Linked DNA regions of Homo sapiens: regions 1 and 2 are each linked to region 3. The links come from fine-mapping of genetic effects on gene expression. A gene starts in region 3. Each other region holds a variant in brackets. All regions are shown on one strand. Distances are between the middles of the regions.

Region 1 (7,698 bases), 49 kb after region 3:
AGCTTGTTCCTTTCTTGTGGCTCAAGTGCAGATGGGGGTGTGGCAGAGGCAAGGTGCAGAAGAAAAATAAGGAACTGTGAATTTACTTTTAGTGTTATAGTAACTTTCTGTCAATCAGAATTCATCTTATTTTTGCTTCTTCAACATCTTTGAAGCTCTTCCTTGTATAAGGGGTATCAACTATTTCATTAAATTCTACCACAAATATCTAAATATCTCTTTGACTACCACAACTTACATGATTTTGCTCACCAAAGCTTCCTCTAGTTAAGTCCTTTTCATAGGGCCACTTTTTTTTTCTTTCCAAAGTACTTTAAAGATATTTTGGACATAACTGAATAATGTGTTGAACAAAATTTCATCTATAGTTTCCTCACAGATGGCAAGTGTGCCTGCCAAGTTAATGGCTTGATGTGACCAATGCAGCCTGTCAATTTATTTAACGTGAAGATTATATTTACACAGTGAAGGCAATAAACACAATTCCACAATAAGAAGTAAAAATGTGAATTATATATGACAATATCTAGTACAGATTAGGCTACAATTGGCTCTTCTGATAATGCTCAATCTTTATGCCCTGTGACTTCCTCTGCAACAATAGGGAATAAAAACAAATGTTTAAAGAAGTAAAAAATAAATTTAACAAAATATTACTCATATGGGATCAAATAAGCCTTAACGTTCCCAAACTTGCCCCCCTCCCGACAAGCTGTTGGAGTCATTAGCTCCATTGGAGTGAGGTGGGAACTACATGTAAATCTTCTTCAACAGCCCAGGGCCCAGCATAGCATGTGGCCCAGCCATCAGCAATCCATAAATATTTCTTAAATTCATTTGAACAAACAATTCACAATGTCTTTGCTGTTATCCACCAATATAATTTTACACGCTTTGCAGATTTGAGCAATTAACGAAGCATTACTAATGTGCTTATTTAATAAATGTAAATTTTCAAAGTTATTTAGAGACTTGTATCCATTGGAAATACGCAGTAATTAAATGCAGGGGCTCTGGTGTCAGGCCCACTGGGTTTTATCACGGTTCCATTCCCTTGGTATGTGACATCGGCAAATTACTTCTCTAAGCCTACTCTTCCCATCTCTAAAATGTGGATAACAATAGTATTTATCACAGAGGATTTTTATAAGGATCAAGTGAGATTGTGAAGCCTTTAGCATGGGGCCAGGCATACGTTTGTACTCTGTACATGTTACACATGTGTGTGCACACACGTGGCTTATTGTGAATGGCTAAATAATTTTTTTTTTTTTTTGAGATGGAGTCTTGCTCTTCTCCCAGGCTGGAGTGCAGTGGCGCGATCTCAGCTCACTGCAGCCTCCACCTCCTTGGTTCAAGCAATTTCCCTGCCTCAGTCTCCCGAGCACCTGGGATTACAGGCACATGCCACCACACCTGACTAATTTGTTGGTATTTTTAGTACAGAAAGGGTTTCACCATGTTGGCCAGACTAGTCTCAAACTCCTGACCTCAGGCAATCCACTCGCCTTGGCCTCCCAAAGTGCTGGGATTACAGGCATGAGCCACTGTGCCCGGCCTAAATAATTTTTTAACGTAGCAAAACCATGCCAAAACCCAAGATTTTATTTCTTATCGAAATATATAAAAGGATCTGGACAGATTATATACAAATTAATAAAATTTAAGCATATTCACAAATGAAAATTTTTAAAAGCTTGTCATTGTAATTGCTGATCTGAGGCCAATGTTGGTTTGGATAAGAGATAATATGAGGACAGCTAACATCTTTTAATAAAGAATAATGAAATGACACTTGCATTAACTACAACAAAATGTTTTATACCTACTGTACTTAAATAACATGCAATATTTTGCTTTGCAAAGTATTTTTTATGAAAAATGATGTATAACTACAGTACCTGTCAGAATTAAATTATTTTTATTTTTGCCAATTAATTGTTGTTTGTTAAAAAAGAAAAAGATGGAATGATTATGCATACACCAGAAACTCTCATATATATCTTCTCTTTAACAGCTTGAAAGTACAGGTGAAAATGTCAAACCTCACCATCAATTGAAAAACACAGTGACTGTGGATAATACTGTGGGCAACGACACTATGTTTCTAGTTACGTGGCAGGCCAGTGGTCCTCCTGAGATTATATTATTTGATCCTGATGGACGAAAATACTACACAAATAATTTTATCACCAATCTAACTTTTCGGACAGCTAGTCTTTGGATTCCAGGAACAGCTAAGGTAGGTGTTGTGAGTTTGTTCCTAAGGACAACGTTCAACCAAGTTTATGATTTTCAGCTGAATCACATGATTAAATGCATTGTGTAAAGAAAATCTTGTTTTAATATATCAAAAGTTTACTTTAAATTTATGAGGCCATTTTGTGAATATTAAAAATTTAAGAGGAATAACTAAGGTATATTCCCAGTTTTATATATTAGACACCAAATACTTCAACACTGAAAATTAGTATTTCCACTAGTATTACAATTAATGTTTTTCTAGCCTACATATTTCTTTACATAATCCATACAAACACACTTTTCTATATGCTTAGAAAAAAATCTCTACTTAGAATTTATAATATGAATACATGCAATGCATGTGGTTTTTAGCATCTACTGGGTGTGCTGGGTTTTGTTCCAGGTACTTTACAATAAAATGCCATGGTAAGAGCATGAACAGGGTACTATCAGAACATACAAGAGGGTGGAAGGAAGAATGCTTCCTGGAAGCAAAGACATCAAAATGGAAATATAAGGAATAACAGGCCAGAGGTGGGTATGATATTGTGGGCAGAGGAAACAGCATATAGAAAGACTCAGATAAAAAG[A/T]ACATGGCTGTTCATAGAACTAGAGTAGTTCAATAGAGTAGGGTAATCTATAAGTTAGGGATGTAGGCAAAGGAAGGAGAGGGGAGTAGTGAGGCTAGACAGGTAAACAGGAGCTGTATTAGCAAGGGCTTTGCACAACAGTAAAGTGAACAGGGGCTTGAATCCTGAAAGTGAAAGGGAACCACTGATGGTTCTAAGGAGAACTGTAAGTTGATCAGATTCACTCTTGCACTGCCTGAATTCAGTGCCTCCTCACATGCTGCCCCACCCCCACTTTTGTTGTTGTTGTTGTTGTTGTTGTTGTTGTTGTTGAGATGGAGTCTCGCTCTGTCACCCAGGCGGGAGTGCAGTGGCACCATCTCAGCTCACTGCAACCTTCACCTCCCAGGTTCAAGCGATTCTCCTGCCTCAGCCTCCCGAGTAGCTGGGACTACAGGCACTTGCCACCATGCCTGGCTAATTTTTGTATTTTTTGGTAGAGATGAGGTTTCACCATGTTGGCCAGGCTGTTCTCAAACTCCTGACCTCAAGTGATCTGCCTGCCTCTGCCTCCTGAAGTGCTGGGATTGCAGGCATGAGCCACCGCTCCCACCACCTTCTTGACAGCCCCTTAACTAGCCTTCTTGACTCTGAACTGCCATCCCTCCAGTCCATTCTTTACCTCTATAAAAGCGATCCTTCTGAAGCACAAATCAGTCTGTCTTTTGTTCAAAACCTCCTTGGTGGTTTCAGAATAAAATCCAAGTGTTAACCTTTTTTTTTTTTTTTTTTTTTTTTTAGCTTAGAAGATTCGCATTTATTCCAGATGGGAGGCTGAATCTCTCAGTTGTAGATTTTGACACATTGGCACTATTTTTGTTTCTGATTTATTGCCTTGGCCATAAGGTCAAAGGCAACAATAAAGTGTACTTTCATTAATATCACCATGGACTTTCGAGTATTAATATGACAAGAAAAGACAACTATTCATTTTTTTTAAGGGGATTGGACACACAAACTTCAGGAGGGAAGAATCCCCTCTCCCATGGTAGAATCCTCTATCTTGATAAAATGGTTGCTTTATTGGTCAGATTTTGGACTTGGATCGTCTTTGTTATAATATTAATAGTACAGAGCATGTAAGATTTTCTGCATTCATTTGAAATTCCTAATACCAACCATCTTTTAATTTATAAAAAAATGAGGGAAACTTATAATAAAACAAAAAATACTACCCTCACAGACGATTAATAGCATGCAATCTATGAAATATTACACACATTAAAAGTCTCCAATTACTGTGTGCCTGGCTCATCACACAGTATCCTTCCAAGACGATCTATAGAATTCAAAACTGTACAAAAATTTTAAAATATGCAGAAAACCCAAAAGGTATTTTGTAAAACAAAGATCACACACACATTAGTACTAAATAGGGAAAAAAAATCAGCAGACCCATGGACTCCCCCTGCTCCCAACTGCAGGTCTTCAGTATAGAGGATTTCACCAGTGTCTTCTGCACTCCCCCAATCCAGTAGGGGTCCAACAGACCAGCTGCATTCCTCCTGACTGCCACCAACTCTGTTTTCTGCATAGTTGTCTTCTCTGCTTCTGTAGTGGTGAGCTGTGGGAACTTTTTTTTTTTTTTTTTTTTTTTGATGGAGTCTCGCTCTGTCACCAGGCCCAAGTGGTAAATCTTACATACCAGACCCTTCATGTTTTGGCTTCTACCCAAGCTTCTCTCTTAACTTCTTCGATGCTCTGCTCCTATTGAACTTTTCTCCAAATTCATCATGTTCTTTTCACACCTGTGTATAAGGGCCAGGGACACTTTACCTACTTCTTGCTCCCCTTGCCTGACCTCTTGGTCTGGATTAGATGCCCTGTATCAAAACATTTATTACACTCAGAGAACTTTTTGATGTGGAAGTTCCTGCCATGCATCTGTCACTAATGTTATGATTCAAAAAACAAAAACAAAAAAACATAGTCCTTGAATCATAACTTAATGGAAAATAGTGAAGCTCATGAATCCCAATGAAGAAAGATGGCTAGGGTGTGGTGCATCTGAACTCTCCACCCTGAGTTACGCTTCAACCCCTTGCTTTTCTGTTCTTCCTTCTGCTTTGTTGTGTTTCACTTGTTACTTCTGGGGGTTTGATAAGGAGCAGCAGCAGAAGTCAGGGAAAAGCAATATATGTATAGCTTAATCAAAAGGACGAATTTCTGCTATATTGTAATTTTAGTCTTTTTCTTTCAGATTTTCTTTTGTAGGTTTTTCCCAGGCAGATAGGCAAGAGTAGTGTTTAGCAGTATTTCTATAAATTACCCAAATTAGATATTGTATAATCCTGACCTATTAAAAATAGTAGGTCCTTTTCTTGGTCCCTAGTAGTGTATGTGTTTTTTGTTGATTGAGATTTCTGAGTGTGGAGTTTTTGGGAAGTGGAGTGAAAGAAGGATGTTGTTGCCTTTTTAGTCCACGGTGTCCACATAAATTATAATGGTCCAATTAATTTGATGTAATTTTCTCAGTTATGAAAAGAAATGAAAAACATTTAAACGCCTTTTTGGGGAAGGGGCTCAGATTAATATCTGTAAAGTACTTTGAAGCTGGACACTATTATTGTTATGTTCTAAAAATGGGAATCAAGATGTATCCTCCCTCACTCCAAATAAATTCGAGGTGTAATTCCCTAAAGAATTATCTAGAAATAAAGGTGACTTATGCTATGAAAGCCATGTAAATACAAATTTATTCATCCCTTAACCAATGCTACTTTTCCTGGCATCTTTTTGTAGTATTTTAAAAAGTGCAACATCAACAAAACAAGAGCAAAATTCTCCAGAAGTTTTGATGTATGCTTTAAAATTAGGGTTGATTTTTTTTTCACACTTTCCAAAACAATAAGACTTGTTTTACAGCCTGGGCACTGGACTTACACCCTGAACAATACCCATCATTCTCTGCAAGCCCTGAAAGTGACAGTGACCTCTCGCGCCTCCAACTCAGCTGTGCCCCCAGCCACTGTGGAAGCCTTTGTGGAAAGAGACAGCCTCCATTTTCCTCATCCTGTGATGATTTATGCCAATGTGAAACAGGGATTTTATCCCATTCTTAATGCCACTGTCACTGCCACAGTTGAGCCAGAGACTGGAGATCCTGTTACGCTGAGACTCCTTGATGATGGAGCAGGTAACAAGGAATGTCATGACATTTTATCATCTTCTCAACAGCTGTTGTGATATGATGCGGTAGTATCAATATTAAGCTTATCTGTAAGATTCCTTGAGTTCAATTTTTTTTTAATCTTACAATATTCTCAAATTCTTATAGAGTCACTGATATACTGAATAGCTACAGGTTAACATGGAAAAAGAGAGTCCTTGTGAGACTCCTCATAGTGTCTATGTTTGAGCAAAGGGTGGGAGGCAGCCGCTGGACACCTTGGTCCTGGCTTCCACTTGCTGAGGTCATACAGGAGCAGGCTTCTATGTCCTTATGACATACTTATATTCCTCTAAGAGTCACTAGCTTTATTATTCACTGAAGTAATCAGATTGGACTGTTAAAATAGCAAATGAAAATCAGAAGGGAGGTGCAGTGACAGCGAACCCACTTTTTCCCTTTGGACCCCAGTTATGAAGAAAAAATTGGAAACTGAACTTGTGACCTATAAGATGACCCTAGACCCAAGAGGCTGGGTTGAAGAGAGGGCACAGCTCAGTTCTAGCACAGCCAATGCCTTTTACGTGTGTAATTTGGTCCCAAGAAGACCCAGCCTGCAAGCCTAGTGGAATCAGAATAGAGAAAAGTTCTCATTCTGCACATACAGCATTCAGAGCCTCGTCATCATACATTATAGATGGTATAGCATCCAGCCAGGTAAACAGCAGCACTTGGGATCCTTTGAAAAACAAATTCCTTTGTTGTTCCATCTTTCCTATTTGGTTATTTTCCTAAATTACATTCTTAGAATGGCAGTAGACCTGCCTCTTGGCAGCCCGAAGTGTTTGATCTGCTAACAAAATTATATTCTTTTGCCCTGTTGTTTCAAAGTTAATCTTTTTTCAAGAGTCTTAAGTTTGGTAGCCCATCAGTATCTTGCCATGGCAATCATGTATGATGTGCAGGAAAACAAAAGTTCATTCAAAGGGTTTTGGTTCAAGTCCACCACTGGGGGATACCAGAGAAGTCTTCTTGTTTTGCCTGTTGGATTGGATCCAAATGAACTTCTCATGCTCTGATGGCTTATCCATGGTTGCACCTTTCATTTTTTGTTTATGGTCCAAAAATGTACTTTTGCAGAATGTTTCTCTCTTGCCCCACCCTGTGGGCCAGCCTGGAGAACAGAGCCTACTCCCCTAGGGAATATCGTCTGATTCAGCTCAATTGGCTTTTATATTATTCCTTGGAACTATTTTATTTGTTTGATATCTAAATGTATGCACTAAAAAAAGGAACAATAAAAAATACTGCTCAGGCATCAAAATGTAAATTGTTTCCCCTCCAATCAATACTTAACACGCATGTACATAGTTGTTTAATACTTTTATAATGGAAGCAGTATTTATTTGCTCAGTAAATGAACTGTAATAAAACTTATACCTCTGAAATGATTTACAATTTAAAATGTACTTTTTCATGCATACTCTCAAATAATCATCACAACAACCCTGCAAGATAAGTTATCTCCATTTTATAGATGAGAAAACTGAGGCTCAGAGACATGAAGCCTCATAGCTACTAAGTGACAGATGCAGGCCTTCAAATTAATTCCTCTGTCTCCCAAGCCAATGTTCTTTCCCCATTTCTTTCTGCCTCAGTTATTAAAAGAGGTGGCAGTGGTGACTTTAATATGGAGAGATTTTCCTTTGTAATTTC
Region 2 (8,089 bases), 38 kb before region 3:
CAATTATTTGCACATTCAATTTGGTTGTATATAAAAAAGGTACAGGAGGAGATTATGTCTTCAAAGTGTTTTCCATCTCTGCCCTTTCCCCAGCCACATTACCATTTATCTAGTGAAGTAGCTCTAGCCTAGCAATGTATCTGTTTTGCTTGAAAAGGAAGATAGTTAAAGAAGAAAAATGTAATTGCTCCCTTCACCCTGTCATCAGGACAAAAACAATAACTACAGGTTGCAAGATGTTTAAAAAGATGACTCTTTGGTAAATGAATTAAAAAGTTTCTAAATAAAGGCCATGCATACCTTTTGTCTTCCTTCTTCTAAAGCAGCTTCCAGTTGTCTGGCCAATGCTGTATACTCTGCAGATTTCTCTTTAAACTTAAGATTGCTGTGCTTAAGACATTCTTCTTGGTTTGCCAGCTTCTTCTCAAGCTCTTTATTTTCTGCGTCCATCTGTTCTAATTTTCTTTTTACAGAAAACATATATTTTAAAATGTTAATGTGCAGAGAAATATGCAGCAGCAATGTTAAGTAATTTAATACTTACTGTTGAAGGTTTTCACACTTCAGCTGAATAAGACAGTTTTCCTCTTCCAGAGAAAGCTTTGTCAGAAGATTGTGATTTCCATCAACCTAAAAGAAAAAAAAAAGTTTTCTTAGTCATTTTCTTCACAATCAACTTCCAAAGAAATCCATATAATTTATTGTTAGAACAACCACAAGCAACGAGAAGGTATAAATGTTACTACTCTTACACAGAAAGACACCAAGAAAATGTTATATTGTTAAAATGGAAGTTTTAAATTCCTGGTTAAATTTAAAGAAGTTATGTTGCCTGTATTGGAAAATAACCAACTAAAAAAAATTCAGGATGATGGCTATTAAAACACTTTGAACAACACCTTATTGAAGAAAGATATTTATTTTGTTAAGTTGAAATAGGAAAATTTTAAGCAGTATTAATCTCCTATTTTTGGATACCTAGGGTTTCTCTTATGGTTTTCTGTTTCACCTAAAAATACTGATTAATAATTGAGTATCTGTGAAGTCGAAACTGTAAATAAAATACATATTTTTTTGAGAAGCAAAGTGAACAAATCAACCAAAGACACACTCACCCATGCCAAGACAGAATATTCTTCCCACTGCTTCAAAATCTGCTCTAAATAATGTAAGAAGCTTTGATTCAAGGAAAAAATTTTTTTCTCATAATTTCAATTAGTAATTTAGGCTAATCTATGTCGTTTGACATTTTACTAGAAAAATCTCTTCTCAGGAATTTAAACTAAAATTTTGTCTGCATATTTTTATCTAACTTTTAAGTTCAGGGGTACAAATGCAGGTTTGTTACACAGGTCAGCTTGTGTCATGGGGGTTTGTTGTACAGATTATTTCATCAATCAAGTATTAAGCCTAGTACCTGTTAGTTATTTTTTCTGATCCTCTCCCTCTTCCCACTCTCCACCCTCTGAAAGGCCCCACTGTGTGTTGTTCTTCTCCATGTGTCCACGTGTTCTCATCATTTAGCTCCTACTTTTTAAGTGAGAAAATGCAGTATTTTTTTTTGCAAAATTAAAATCCAGATCATATTTGGAAGATAGACAGGGAATGCTTCCTAAAACTGCCTTGAAAGTAAAAGAAAAAAGACTTGTCACCATCTTTGGACTGCTCCTTTAAAAAAAATTTCATTAATTAAAAAAATATTGAGTGCTTACTATGTGCTAGGCATTGAGCTAGGAGAAGGCTATGTGGCTACTAACAGGATACACATGATCCATATTCTGATGGTATAAAAAGTAAAACAGGAAAAAGAAACAGACTGAAAAATATCCCAAAAAACTTGACGTACAATTCTAATTAAAATAAATTCAATTTTTGTAATGTAAGTTTCAATAATTTACCTTATCCTTACATCAAGGAACATATATGTAAGTATAACTTTGCTCCTTCTCTCATTCTATTACCATGTCTTCAAATGTCTATAGATTTGCATGAATAAACTAAAATAAGAATTTTAATTACCAATTTTTCACCATAAAATACTAAAAGAATAGCTTGCAAAACTGTATTATAGTATCTGCATGAAAATGATGTTTTACGAACTAAGTAGATGGGAATTTAAAAATCAAGCCCTGACATGAGTGCCCTCAACTGGTGAAATCATTCCAAAGCATTCTTTTAACGCATCTAGCAAAACTCAGAAGGACGGCTGGACACCTGGCCCTGAAGCTCCCTAATGGTGTGTTCCTGGTCTGCACACTTCCCCTTGCAGCACTGCAGACTCTCCTGACACTCGTGAAGCCTCCGTTCCGCCGCCGTCAAGGAATCGCAGACACGCTCTAACTCCTTCAGATGAGACTCCATCTGGCCTCTCATCTGAGTTGTGGCAGTAGGGAAATAAGTGCAAGATCACACATTCAGCATTAATATTTTTATTATCTTAAATACTAGATATGCTTATAACGTAAGTATTTTAGGTATAATGGCTTTAAATAAGAACACAACTGAATAAATATTAAACTCTGTTAAATAAGAATGTATAACTAAAAAGTGGGGTAGACTTTAGTTTTCAAAAAGTTTGTTGAGCACATAAATAGGGTAAATTAGCTGACAGGGTGGATGTTTAACTAATTTTTAAGAGCAAATTTTTAAAATCCTGACATTATATTCAAGCATAGATTATCACTAATAACCATTACTAATAAAGCCGTAATTGTCTACTGCCCAGCTATAGGTTCTAAAGGAATTGTCACTTTTAGTCATTCAATCTTATAACTCAGATACTTACTTAAATTAGAGCAGCTTGCTTCACTCATCTTAGCCAAAACTGATAGGGTTTACTGTATATTATTTAAAAATTGCTAGTATCATCAGTTCTCACTTGCCTTTAATTTGGCCATTAATGTTACTATCAACAAATCTCTCTAATTTCATCTACATTAATCTGTTTTGGCTACTGCAGTTCCTCGCTGCAGCACTTTCGTGGAGATGTGAAAAGCAGCAACCTTAAGAAATGTTTGCACTGCTAATTACAAAAAATAGCCAGACTCTTTCCCTGAGACAGGAACACCTAATAGTTTCTGTGTAGTATCTGGCATTCTTGATCAGGAAAGATAATGCAGTATTTTTTTTTTTTTGCAAAATTAAAATCCAGATTATATTTGGAAGACAGACAGGGAATGCTTCCTAAAACTGTCTTGAAAGTAAAAGAAAAAAGACTTGTCGCCATCCTTGGACTGCTCCTTTAAAAAAAATTTCATTAATTAAAAAAATATTGAGTGCTTACTACGTGCTAGGCATTGAGCTAGGAGAAGGCTATGTGGCTACTAACAGGATACACATGATCCATATTCTGATGGTATATAAAGTAAAACAGGAAAAAAAAAAAACAGACTGAAAAATGTCTGTTTTAAGGACACTGAGGGATCCAGAACAAAGGATCCCTCAGTGTCCTTAAAACATCTTAGAGGCCATGAGAAAACCAGGAGACTTAAAACAGTGAAGTAAGAAAAAGAAAAATTTCATTAAAAAAATAGTTGTCTTGTTAAATACTAGTTAGAAAACATTGTGACCTCACAGTATCTGAAAAAGACAGGCTCCAACCCTTTCCGTCATTTGAACAGGATTGTAAAATATGCTTTTATTTACAGTGCTGCCTAGCAGAAAAGGAGACATTTGCACTGGTATGTTTCATGAGAAAATGAGACCAAAAGACATGAAATGGTTTATTCGCTGGCCTGCTAAAAATAGGTGAAAAGTAATTCCATGAAAGCAGTAAGTTGTGCATTCAGTGAGCTATCTTTATGTCTGTATAACTGGAGGACGCTTGCTCTGGCTGACCTCTTCTTCACATTATTGCCTTGCTCTGACTTCTCAATCCTAAGATAGGGAGCAACCCAGAGAGAGTAACCTTATTAGATTCAGATGGAAGCGACCACTAACAT[C/T]GCATGACCTCTGCTGCCAGGAGTCAGCATCCTACAACTTTCACTGCTTCTTTACCAAAACAACACAAAAAACCAAACAGAGATGCGGTTTCATTTAAAAATTTTAAAATATTCACAAAAACATCATAACTCGCCAACACTGGCCTTCCCTTCATTCTGTTGCAATAGAACAAATAAAAGGAAATGATCGTTTTTTAAAAGATATTATTTTTCTTCAAAAATGCATTTAGCAGATATTGGCTTTGCTTTTGTAGACGTAAAACATTTATAACCAGAAAAAAAGGGTGAGATTAAAAATGAGAGATACTTAGGTTTGTATACTTATGATTGATAACCATTTTTTGAGCTATTTAAAGTCTGCTCTTGCATCAGAAAAATTAAACATTTATGCTATTTTCCAAATATTAACAAAAAAGTGAAAAAACATTCACATAAACAAACAACATTTCCAGCCTGGAAGAAACATTATTTCCTTGGAAAACAAACTCTTACAGAGGCTAAGACTAGCCCTTTCCTAAGTATGAACTAGAGAAAATGACCAAAATGAATGAATTTGTGTACTATTCATAAAGTAAAAAATATATAAAATATTATTTATTTGAAATTCCAAACGTACCTTCTCTACATTTTTATTTTTGGTTTTTGTTATTTGGTTATTTTTATGTAGCAAATTTTCACATCTGCTTTTTACTATTTCAGCTGCTTCTTGCAACTTTTGTACCTGAAAATAAAGTATTAGAGAAACATATTATTTTTAGAATCATAACATGAGATAAAAATCTAAAATTTAAAATTTCATTTTAAACAAGTCATTATTTTCCTATCAATATCCTTGACTGGTTCATCTAATGTTATTACTTCTTTAAATATGGAATCACTCAGTGCTCTACTCTAACCCACAATCTTTGTCTGATTTACCTGTCTTCTCTCATCAATACTTCTAAACTCTCCACTTGAGCTTTGAAGACTACAAAGATTTTCATTTGCAGATCAATGTCACTTCAAAGAATCAGTCTCTGGTCCAAACTAGCTTCCATTTAAATTATTTTTCCCACCAAATCAAAATCTGCTAAAAAAAAAAAAAAAAATTCTAGGCCCTGCACCCAGAATATGGTCACTCAACCACAGTATTCCTGCTGAGGGATTAAACCCAAATAACCAGCTGGAAGACCCTGATGAATAACAAGTCCCACAGTCCACCACAACCTCCATTCCTACCTCAGACCTGGATGACTGAAATATTCTAACTGGATGTCTCAACTTAATTTTCCCATCTAATCCATCGAGATGCAGCCCCTTCCTACTTGCCCACACTTTGGCCCCCTTAAGCTTTCATCCTTAGTTCATTCTTTTTTTTTTTTTTTTTTTTTGAGATGGAGTCTTGCTCTGTTGCCCAGGCTGGGAGCACATTGGTGCAGTCTCGGCTCACTGCAACCTCCACCTCCTGGATTCAAGCAATTCTCCTGCCTCAGCCTCCTGAATAGCTGAGACTACAGGTGCATGTCACCACACCTGGCTAATTTTTGTATTTTTAGTAGAGACAGGGTTTCACCATGGTGGCCAGGCTAGTCTCGAACTCCTGACTTCAAATGATCCGCCCACCTCAGCCTCCCAGTGGATTACAGGTGTACGCCACTACACCCAGCCAGTTCATTATTCTTTAATTCAAACTCTCTCTGACCAGTGTGTTAACCATCATGCAAGGACCTGCATAAGTCCCATCTTATGAAGTTTTTTCTTGAATACTACATTTCCAAAAAAATAAAGGTTTTCTATAAATTACCATTGAACACATGGTCTATTTCATATATATTGTCATATGTTCTTTTCTTGGTCTTTCATGTGAATAATCTGAATTATACTTTATTTCTTGAGAAAGGAGGCATAATGAACTTTAATGACCCTAGAAGGGAGTCATTAATCTAAATCAATACCATTAAATACACATGATGACAAACAAATATAACCAAGATTAACAAGAATACATTAAGGGTCACATTATACCGATGTAATTCATTTTAAATCTACTTTTAGGAATATCCAGTATATCCATATGCAGTGTTTGAATCAGGAATCAGCAGAATCATCTATTTATAAAGATGTGTGGGACCTTAAGAAATATTTGAGACACACCATATTATAACCCACAATGATAGCCCCACCTCTCTTCAGTTCTATTTATTTAGATTACAAAGAAATAGTGTTTTAAATTGTCTACCAATTTTAGTAAACACTAAAATAAATGCAGTAGTCACCTGAGTTTTATACATTTCAATAAGGGTTTTCTGTTTTTTTTCTACTTCTTGCAATTCTGAGAGTTCATTTTCAACAGATACAACTTCATCCTTCAAAGCAGCAAGTGTAGTCTAGCAAAAAAGATATAGATTTTATAAGTCATTAGAATACATTTATACTCCAGTGCTACAGAATTATTATAAAAACATAACTCATGTATTAACAAAGTTGATAAAATAATTATTTTTTATTTCATGCAATACCATCTAAAATTTAGGAATTTCACAAAGCTAGTGACTAATAATTATGAACATCCTTATTAAGATTTACACAGGACATATTATTTTTAAAACTTTCTAAATTTACTGACAAAAAAACTTGGAAATGTGCCTAGATATGAAAAATCAATAGAATACAGAGGTTACTGGAAAAGAAAAATACACAAAAATTATACTTAATACATGATAAAGGTTAGATTTTTAAATCAATGGAGGAAACATGGACAACTAAATAAATGACAATAAGACAACTGTTTAACTATTAGGAAAAAAACAGGTTAACTACCTGCCTCAGCCCAACACTAAAGAAGCATCAAATGAATTAAATAAAAACTTTAAAAATTTTCAGACAATTCAGATAAAACTGTATTTCATTTCAGGATAGCAAAAGTCCTAAAGAGCATAAAATTAAAAGAAGATATGTAGAAATGTAAAAGTCTGAGATTTTATCTTCCTTGCAAGCTTACTAGTTAGTCTACTGCAATTTCATGGATGCTAACAGAAGGTACAAGATTCCTAGGTCAGAGACAGGGGACTTATTACTCACAGCAATAAGAGTAGCAAGACTGTCAGCATTTGTATCAGTTTGCTGAGCCCCAGTTCCCACAGAGCAACCCAGAGGCCAGATGGCAACTGTATATGCAGTCAAATGCATTACAGAAGAACAAACCTGAGTTTAGGGAACCCAAATTTCTTATAGCAGGCAGTGAGCATGCCTACCCATACTCCTAAGGGAGACACGGTTACCATATTCCAAGGATATCTACTATACAAACATCCTTCAAAAGACAGTCTACATGGACAATATCTTTGATTACAAGATGTGCAGAGCTGTGAGAGCACTCTCAAGAGAAGCCATTTAAAAAAATGTGTGTGCGTGTATCTCTCTCCAAAATTTCACAGCTTTCCAATACAGTTTAAATGGCAAACAAAATATGAAAAAGTATTAGCAAATGACAAATTTGATGTCTTGTCAAATAACATTTGTCATTAGAAAAATAAAACAAATATAAGATTAATATCCTTAATATAGTTATTATATATTAATTAGGACAAAAGACAAATATAAAAAATAATGAGTAGGTAATTCAAAAAGGCAGAAATGTGAATGATTGATGAATACATGAGCCAATATGTTCACTAGTTACTTTTTAAAATGCTGCAGGCACTGAAGGTTCTATTAGTGAACAAAACAGACGACATTCCCTTCCTCCATGAAGCTTACATACTGGAGGGGCAGACAGACAAAAAATAAGAACAAGCAGTAAAATACATCAAACACAAAAGCAGCTAGGAATGACATGTGGGCGAAGGCCTCCTGAGAAAGAGACTTTTGAGTAAAACTGATAGGAAGTGTGTCTGTTTAAGGGAAAAAGACAACAGCGGGAGGCGGCCTAGCAAGTTAGGGGAAAACAACAAGAAAGCCAGTGAGGTAGAAATAGAGAAAAAAGGGGAAGAGTGGAAGGAGATGAGAGTGGAAGAAGAAGAGAGGTAATAGAAAATGAGATGGTATAATGCCTTGTAGGTATTTACGAACCAAGATATCTCTGGGGGGTTCTGAGCAGGGCAGTGACACGATCTGACTAAATTTTTTTTTTTTTTACTTTTTAATTTGTATTTATTAATTTATTTTTG
Region 3 (8,089 bases):
TACTCCTGCAAGCACAGCCATAATCAAAAAATAATAATAGATGTTGGCATGGATGCAGTGAAAAGAGAACACTTCTACACTGTTGGTGGGAATGTAAACTAGTACAACCGCTATGGAAAACAGTGTGGAGATTCCTTAAAGAACTAATAGTAGAGCTACCATTTGATCCAGCAATCCCACTACTAGCCACCTACCCAGAGGAAAAGAAGTCATTATATAGAAAAGATACTTGCACATGCATGTTTATAGCAACACAATGTCCATCAAACAATGAGTAAAAAAACTGTGATATACATATATATATAATATATACATGATAAAATACTACTCAGCCATAAAAAGGAATAAATTAACGGCATTCACAGCAACATGGATGGAATTGGAGACTATTACTCTAAGTGAAGTAACTCAGCAATAAAAAACCAAACATCATATGTTCTTACTTATAAGTGGGAGCTAAGCTATGAGGATGCAAAGGGGTAAGAATGAATCAGTGGACTTTGGAGATTCAGGGTGAAAGGGTGGGAAGGGGGTGAGTGATAAAAGACTACCAATTGGAATTCAGTGTACACTGCTCAGGGATGGGTGCACCAAAATCTCACAAATCACCACTCAAGAACTCACTCATGTAACCAAATACCACCTGTTCCCCAAAAACCTATGGAAATAAAAAATTTTAAAAAACCATTTAAAAATCCTTAAAGATGAGCAATTTTAAAATATTTTAAAATGTTTAAAGATTTAAATTTCCTATACAGAGACAATTTTGCCAGTCTACTGCCAAGAGGACATGTACTTAAAGCTTTTTCCAGGAGTGCTTGTAGGCTATGCTGATCCAGCTACATTCACTAAACTATGTTCCACTGTGGCCAACAGCAAGCATTTGGGGATAACTGCTCAGGGACCATGATGCTAGCCATGGTCAGAGAAAAAGGAAAATCATGGTCCATGACCTTCCTTAACACCTAGATCAGACTAAGTAAATTAACTAACTTCAGATGAATATGTATTTTAAAACAATATCTCTGAAGAGAATAGCATATGAAACCTGCACATTTTGTTTTGCCAAACACAAATTCTTAGAAAACTAACTTCCACTGGCTTCAAACACAGCTTCTACTGAAAAAAGTCACCATGGCATATTCAGCAAGGAACACAAAGTAGATACAGGAATCCTCTTTTTTTCCCCCTACTATTCTGGACACTAGTCAAACGTTTACTAGAGAGGTAATTGTATGAAAAAAAAAAAAAGGATAGGAATCTTGGAAACAGGCAAAAAGCTGGAAAATAAATCTTATGCGTAAAAGCTACCAAAATGGAAAAAACGTTTTCTGATACAGAGAGATTAGATTAGATAACAAATTAGTAATCCCTCTCTCCAATGAAAAAAGAAGGATGTATATTTAAAAGATGGGCTGCAGACTGGATAATATAGGAAGAAGAGTTGACAGCAAGAGTGACTGTTCTGTAAACACGGCATGTACTTCAAAGCCAACATTCCATTTCCTTCTCAAAGTGTTGCCCTGATTTCTCCAGCCCATCAAGAACTCTAAACAAAAGTATTTTCAGAATCATATAGTTTAGAATTTAACTGCTCCATAAATGCTCATATTTTAGTTCTCTTTTAAACTTGCTATTAACTGTGAGGACAAATAATACGCATCACTCTCTGCCCTAAAAAATTACCTAACACAGTGGGGAGCATAGATTAGGTTCTCAAATATAAGTTAGGGTGACTAAATTATTTACTGTTTAAACTCGGACACTTTTGAGTGTCCATATAGAGCCCAATTACCCGGAAAAAGACCTGGCCAAAGATGTTCAGAATATTGTCTAATCCCAAATAAAGTCACCATCCTGTACCAGACAAACATAAAGCATATTCCTTTCCTTCAACACGACAGCTGTTGCCATTTACTGAGCAGAGCACTGACTGACCTTATAAACATCATCTCACAAAAGCTTCACAAGGTTGTTATTAAAAAGCTATAAATAAGTAAATTAAATCTTAGAAGGGTTAAATAGCTTGTCCAAGATTACAAGTAAGGAATTGGTGGAACTCAGTTTTGAATTAAAAGCCATGAGATGGTGAAACCGCATCTCTACTAAAAATACAAAAATTAGCTAGGCGTGGTGGTGGGCACCTGTAGTCCCAGCTACTCGAGAGGCTGAGGCAGGAGAATCACTTGAACCCGGGAGGCGGACGTTGCAGTGAGCCGAGATCGCGCCACTGCACTCCACTGCGGCAGAGCGAGACTCCATCTCAAAAAAAAAAAAAAGCCATGAGATACTAAAACATAAATATAAAAATCTACAAAGCAAAAAGTAACACACAAACTTGCCTTTATTCAGTCAGGTTTTAATACTCATAAGTTCAATTTAGATTCAAAAGATGAAAACTGTTCTGGACAAGGAAATGAGTGATGAATGAGCTAGCTAAAAGCACAGACTACAATTCTAAAGAGAGAGAGCAGACCGCGACCAGATCACTAAATTCCATTGTTCTAAAGTTTGTCACAAGGAACTTTTGGGATAGAAAAACTACACTATAAATACACATCCATTGTGAAATAAGAAGATGAAAAAGAGAAGCAAAAAGCAAATCATAAACATGATCATGACATTCTTACTATAAGCAGAATATCAAACTAATTTCAAAAGCAGACAGGTTTTCTGCAGTTTGTTTCTTTTTCCTTTTTTTTTTTTTTTTTTGAGACAGAGTCTCGCGCTGTCGCCCAGGCTGGAGTGCAGTGGCGCGATCTCGGCTCACGGCAAGCTCCGCCTCCTGGGTTCACGCCATTCTCCTGCCTCAGCCTCCCGAGTAGCTGGGACTACGGGCGCCCGCCACCACGCCCGGATAACTTTTTGTATTTGTTTTAGTAGAGACGGGGTTTCACCGTGTTGGCCAGGATGGTCTCGATCTCCTAACCTCGTGATCCGCCCGCCTCGGCCTCCCAAAGTGCTGGGATTACAGGCGTGAGCCACCGCGCCCGGCCCGGTTTGTTTCTTTAACCTTAACTCAGTTGCACTTAAAACTCCAAGAACCTCATTCATTCAAAAACACTTGAAACCGTACTATGCGTTGCGTGATGAGGAAACTGTCTTCGAAATAGATTTTATCCCCAACAGCAGCCCCAGTATGGTTATTCTCAGTAAACAACAAGCACCACCACTCACTAACCACCTACATTCGGTGCCACCTTAATGGCCCTGCGTTTACTTAATCTCGTATTACAACCACCCCAAAGTGATGATTACTGTTACAGTTATCAGTAAGGAATCCAGGAAGGTTCAGTGACCTAGACAAGGCCACACAGCGGGTTCAGTGGCAGAGCTGGGACTGAACACAAGTCGGCCTTTAGCACTCTCCACGACCCTAGGTCAATCCCGCACTACAGGGGTCGCCTATAGGGGCTGGAACCTAGAGGAATCCTGGAGAAGGAATTATTTCCTGAGGATTCCTGTAATATACCTCACTTACGAAGCCCCCAGGGCTTCCTACAATCTGATATATCACATGATGGGCGATTAAAAACCAGCCCAATGATTAAGAGGTCACTATTTCTGAAAGAAATGCAACCATATCCAGGAACGGCCCGGTCAGGACTTCGTTCTGCACAAGCCCACCTCACGCTAACATTTGCCCTGATGTCCCGGGGACCACACCCTTCCTAAGAGTGAGTCTCGCCGCCCTTTTCCCAGGCCAGGTAGTCAGCCTGAGGGAGGTGGAGGGTTTGCGCGGAGGGGGCTGGGTGGGCGCGAGGGCCTTTTACTTCCGGGACCCACCACTGCCCTCACCTCCAGACCGCTAAGGGCTCCCGCGGTAAACGCCCAGCAGCAGCTAGGCTCCCCACAAAGTCGCCCCCAACCCAAAAGGCGTACTTACGCCCCCGCCGCTGCGTCCGCACGTCGTCGTGACGACAGCCCGCCGTCGCCGCGATATAAAAAAAGGGTCAGAGGCGCCACGGCTGCTGCAATGGAAACCGTGGCAATCCTTCTTGTGCTCTGAGTCGGCTAGGAGGGAGCGGGACGCAGGGGGCACTACAGTGGGTAGACTAGGAAGGAAGGCAAGGGACGCGAGGTGGGAACCAGGCGAATTCCTAGACCTGCTTGCCGCAGAAGAGTGCCCGCTCAAGTGGAACAAAAGCGCAGCTAGTAACCGGCTAGTGGCTTCTCTGGCAACGGCGGCCCCACCCCTCCCGTCAGGCCCGCAGCAGGCTGCCGATTGGTCCGGGTTAGGGACGGCGGGCAGCGCCTATAGCTATTGGAGAGGGTGAGGAACGGGGCAGGGAGGGCAGCTTCGTGTCTATCCTTGTTTCTCGGGTAAACATTTTTTTTTAAGCGTTTGTTTATGGACAAGGACAGCATTTGTGTACGTTACCGAAAATCATAACCGAGCCCAACTAGAAAAAAAGGAAATAAAGCCAATTCCGAGTTTTCTGGCGCTTGGCCTGGTTGTGCCCTGCTTTTGCTTTTTAAAGAGAAGATTTGAAAACGTGAAGGCAACTGCGACCGGAAGAAACCTCCTTTTAAATGTATAGTAGTATTTTTAGCTGAGATGCCTCCCTGGGCCTCAGGTTTTTTCCTGTTAAATGAGGAAGCCTGAGGATGTTCTGCAAGGTGCCTTCAGGGTCTCAAAGTCTTTCGTATCTGTGCCACAGCCAGCTGGTCTGGTTTATAAAGTCCTGAAGAAGCAAAGCAAGATTTTAATTGGAAAAATATCTTCATTCAATGCCTCTACTTAATATTCATGTTAAGAATCGTACACCAACCTATGAAGTTCACAAGTAGAGTAACTGTCAACTAAGCCATAACCGTGGCATGCTGCTACCTAAATAATTGGTTTCACTAAAGCACTCCAGCAATGTTTTTCCACCAGTACTGTAATTGTCCCTTTCATAATTTAAAGCGGGAGACAGAATTAGTAAATTTTTTAGTAAAGGGCCAGTGATATGGTTAGGCTCTGAGTCCCCGACCACATCCCATCTTGAATTGTAATCCCCATAATCCCCACGTGTCAAGAGAGAAACCAGGTGAAGGTAATTGAATCATGGGGGCAGTTCCATAATCCCCACGTGTCAAGAGAGAGACCAGATGAAGGTAATGGAATCATGGGGGCCGTTTACCCCCATGCTAGTGAGTTCTCAAGCTATCTGATGGTTTTGTAAGGGGCTCTTTCCCCTCCACTGGGCACTTCTCCTTAACGAAGAAGGTGTCCTGCTTCCCCTTCACCTTCCGTCATGATTGTAAGTTTCCTGAGGCCTCCCCAGCGACGCTGAACTGTGAGTCAATTAAACCCCTTTCCTTTATAAATTACCCAGTCTCAGGCAATTCTTTATAGCAGTATGAAAATGTGCTCATACAGCCAGATAATATTTTATTAATAGGTTTTGCAGGTCATATGGTCTCTGTGATACTATTTAACTCTGCCATTGTCTTACCAAGAAAAGCCATAGATGATACATAAACATAAACATATGAGCTCACTAAAGTACGTTTGTGTGCAGGATGCAACACTACAGTGTTGGGTAGAAATTGTGATTTCTATCTTCATGGCAACAAATGGGGACTAGAATGTAAAAATAGCAGGCAATGAAATAGAATAAAGATACTTGAATACAAATAATACTTCAAAATTAAAAAGCAACATTTTAGATAACCTGTTTGCAGAGGACAAACAGAAGGTTAAATGAAAGTGTGATGGAGAATCACCACCTTTACATCTTTGCACTCTTTAATAGTGCCACTAATCACTGGAATTCCCCTAGGACTATGGTATTGCCTTTGGTTTAATCTTTTAGTAGATAAGGGCAGTTCCAAAGGCTTCCACTTTGTCTTCCTATTATAATAGCCATGAGTCAAAAAGCCAATGTCAAGATGCTGTAAATCTCCTTTAAGGTTATGACATTCAGGTCTCTTCATTAGTTCTGGTAAATTTTTTGCTGTACAAATTAAGTAGAATCTTAGCAGACTATCCATTTCAATTATAGGGGCAGTGATTAATTATCAACTCCTAAAGATCCCCCTTAGTCAAACAATATGATACACCCTGCTGGTATCATGGTATCAACAGATATCTCATCTCTGATGGCTCAGTGGTATCACTTGGCCTCTATCACTTTGGGATCTTACTATTTCCATTAGGGAATTAGGGATTTCATGCAATGGCAGCATCTTTATCCCCAGGCTTATAGAATAGCAGCTACAGAGCTTTTAAAGGATTCTGGCATTCCCTATATTTTCTCAATGCTTTAGTAAAAAGAAGGTCCTTTGGCCCTCTCAGAACACCTTTGAAAGGAGATGACTGGGTAACATATGATAAATCCATTCATACAGTACTATTCCCTAAGTCTTCTTTAAAAATTGATACATACTAGATGTACATATTTTCAGGGTACATGTGATAATTGGATACATTTATATGAATGTGTAATGTGTAAAGATCAAATCAAGATAGTCAGGATATCCATCACCTTAAATATTTATCTTTATGCTATGAACATTCAAATTGTTCTCTTCTAGTTATTTTGAAATATACAATAGATTATAGTTAACTATAGTCACCCTACTTATCTGTCAAACACTGGGTCTTATTTCTTCTATCTAACTGTATGTCTGCACTCATTAATCAACCTCTCTTCGTTACCCCTTTCCCTAAGTCTTTTAATTCAATCCTCTAAAATCAAGAGATTTCTAACATCTCAACTTTATTTAGTTTCAATCAACCAACTGAGCAAACCTTGACAGCCACTCCTAGATGTTCAAAGCAAGAACAGTGAATTATGGTCTCTGGTAAATGTATTCATATTAATATCTTGGTCTCATCAAAAATATTCCTTCATCCCTGGTCTGCCACACTTGGAATTCATTATCATTTTCTATAGTCTTCTGCCAATATAAATAAGCAAAATCTTGCACTTTTTTGGTATGAAACCCTTCTCCCAGGTCAGATCTTTTATTATACCCTGGAACATGTTGGGATCTAACTTTAGATCTAGACCAGTGGTTCTTGACATTTTTTTTGCCACAGCCAAAGAGGAAGGGCAAGTGTCCTACTGGCATCTAGTGAGTAGAGGCTAGAGATGCTGTTAAACATCTGCAATGCACGGGACATCCTCCACAACAAAATGTCAACAGTGCTGACATTAAGAAACCCCGGTCCAATATGGAGAATACAAAGGCCACCAGCCACCTATAGCTATTTCAAACATTTGAAATGTGATGATTCTGAATTGAGACATGTTGTAAATGCAAAATACACACATTTTGCATATGAAAAAGAACATAAAATATCTTGATTTTCATACTGATTATGTCGAAATGATATTTTGGAAGGCAGCTATACTCACCACTATACCACCAATGCCACCAGAAATGATATTTTGTTTATGTTGAGTTAAATAAAATATATTACCAAAATTTAACCACAACTATTTCTTTTTCACTATTTTAAGAGTAGCTAGTAGAAGATTTTAAATTACGTATGTGGCTCACATTATATTTCTACTAGGTGATGTAGTCTAGAGGTATAAAGAACTGATAACAGTTGAGTTCTGAGAACAATCAGTTCTTCTCAATTGATTCACAAGGTAAATTCCTCAGATTAAGTTACTTCAGAATTTTCAAGGAGTACAAGACCAGCCCTATAGATAGGAAGGGAGGAGTTCTTCAGAAAGCAAAAAGCTCTGTAGTGTCTGCGTATTAAGATAATAGAGCTATCCGAATTCACCCAACCTCTCTATCACAACTCTAAAGATCCAACTCCTTCCCAATCAATGCCTTAATTTCTTACATAAGAGACCTGAGGAGTCTGTTTATTCAACTTACCTTGTAATTTAGCTCTTCACAGCATTAATACTTGATTTGGATGTGTCATCCCAGCAATTAATAAAGTTTTAAGGTAATCATAGAAGTTCTCTGGGCCTCTGAGCTTATCACATTTTTCTTTAAGCATCCTAGTACAGTCATAAATAGAAAAATCACCCCACAATCTTTGTATTCTTCATTCCTGCCATTCCCAACAAAGGTATGCCTTCAGTGACTACTTAATTCCTGAGGATTATAGGCCACTTTTAAATGGTTGTATAAT

The links. PIP is the estimated chance that this variant, and not a neighbour inherited with it, causes the effect.
Region 1: its variant is fine-mapped to the expression of ODF2L in whole blood (TOPMed, PIP 0.96).
Region 2: its variant is fine-mapped to the expression of ODF2L in thyroid (GTEx, PIP 0.94).

What each region holds. Positions count from the first base shown.
Region 1 is chr1:86,441,770-86,449,467 of GRCh38, forward strand. It overlaps CLCA2 (chloride channel accessory 2), which reads left to right. Exons shown (of 14, transcript NM_006536.7): 10 at 2,018-2,242; 11 at 5,739-6,009. Among named protein-coding and RNA genes, the nearest start is that of CLCA2, 21 kb to the left of the region's middle. The variant A/T (reference allele first, on the strand shown) is at 2,835.
Region 2 is chr1:86,354,230-86,362,318 of GRCh38, forward strand. ODF2L (outer dense fiber of sperm tails 2 like) reads right to left here. Exons shown (of 17, transcript NM_001366781.1): 11 at 6,197-6,307; 12 at 4,558-4,662; 13 at 2,215-2,373; 14 at 545-630; 15 at 301-463. It overlaps MIR7856 (microRNA 7856), which reads right to left and starts at 3,458; the gene lies at 3,403-3,458. The variant C/T (reference allele first, on the strand shown) is at 3,942.
Region 3 is chr1:86,392,147-86,400,235 of GRCh38, forward strand. ODF2L (outer dense fiber of sperm tails 2 like) reads right to left here and starts at 4,177. Exons shown (of 17, transcript NM_001366781.1): 1 at 3,887-4,177. RefSeq lists an enhancer at 4,102-4,151.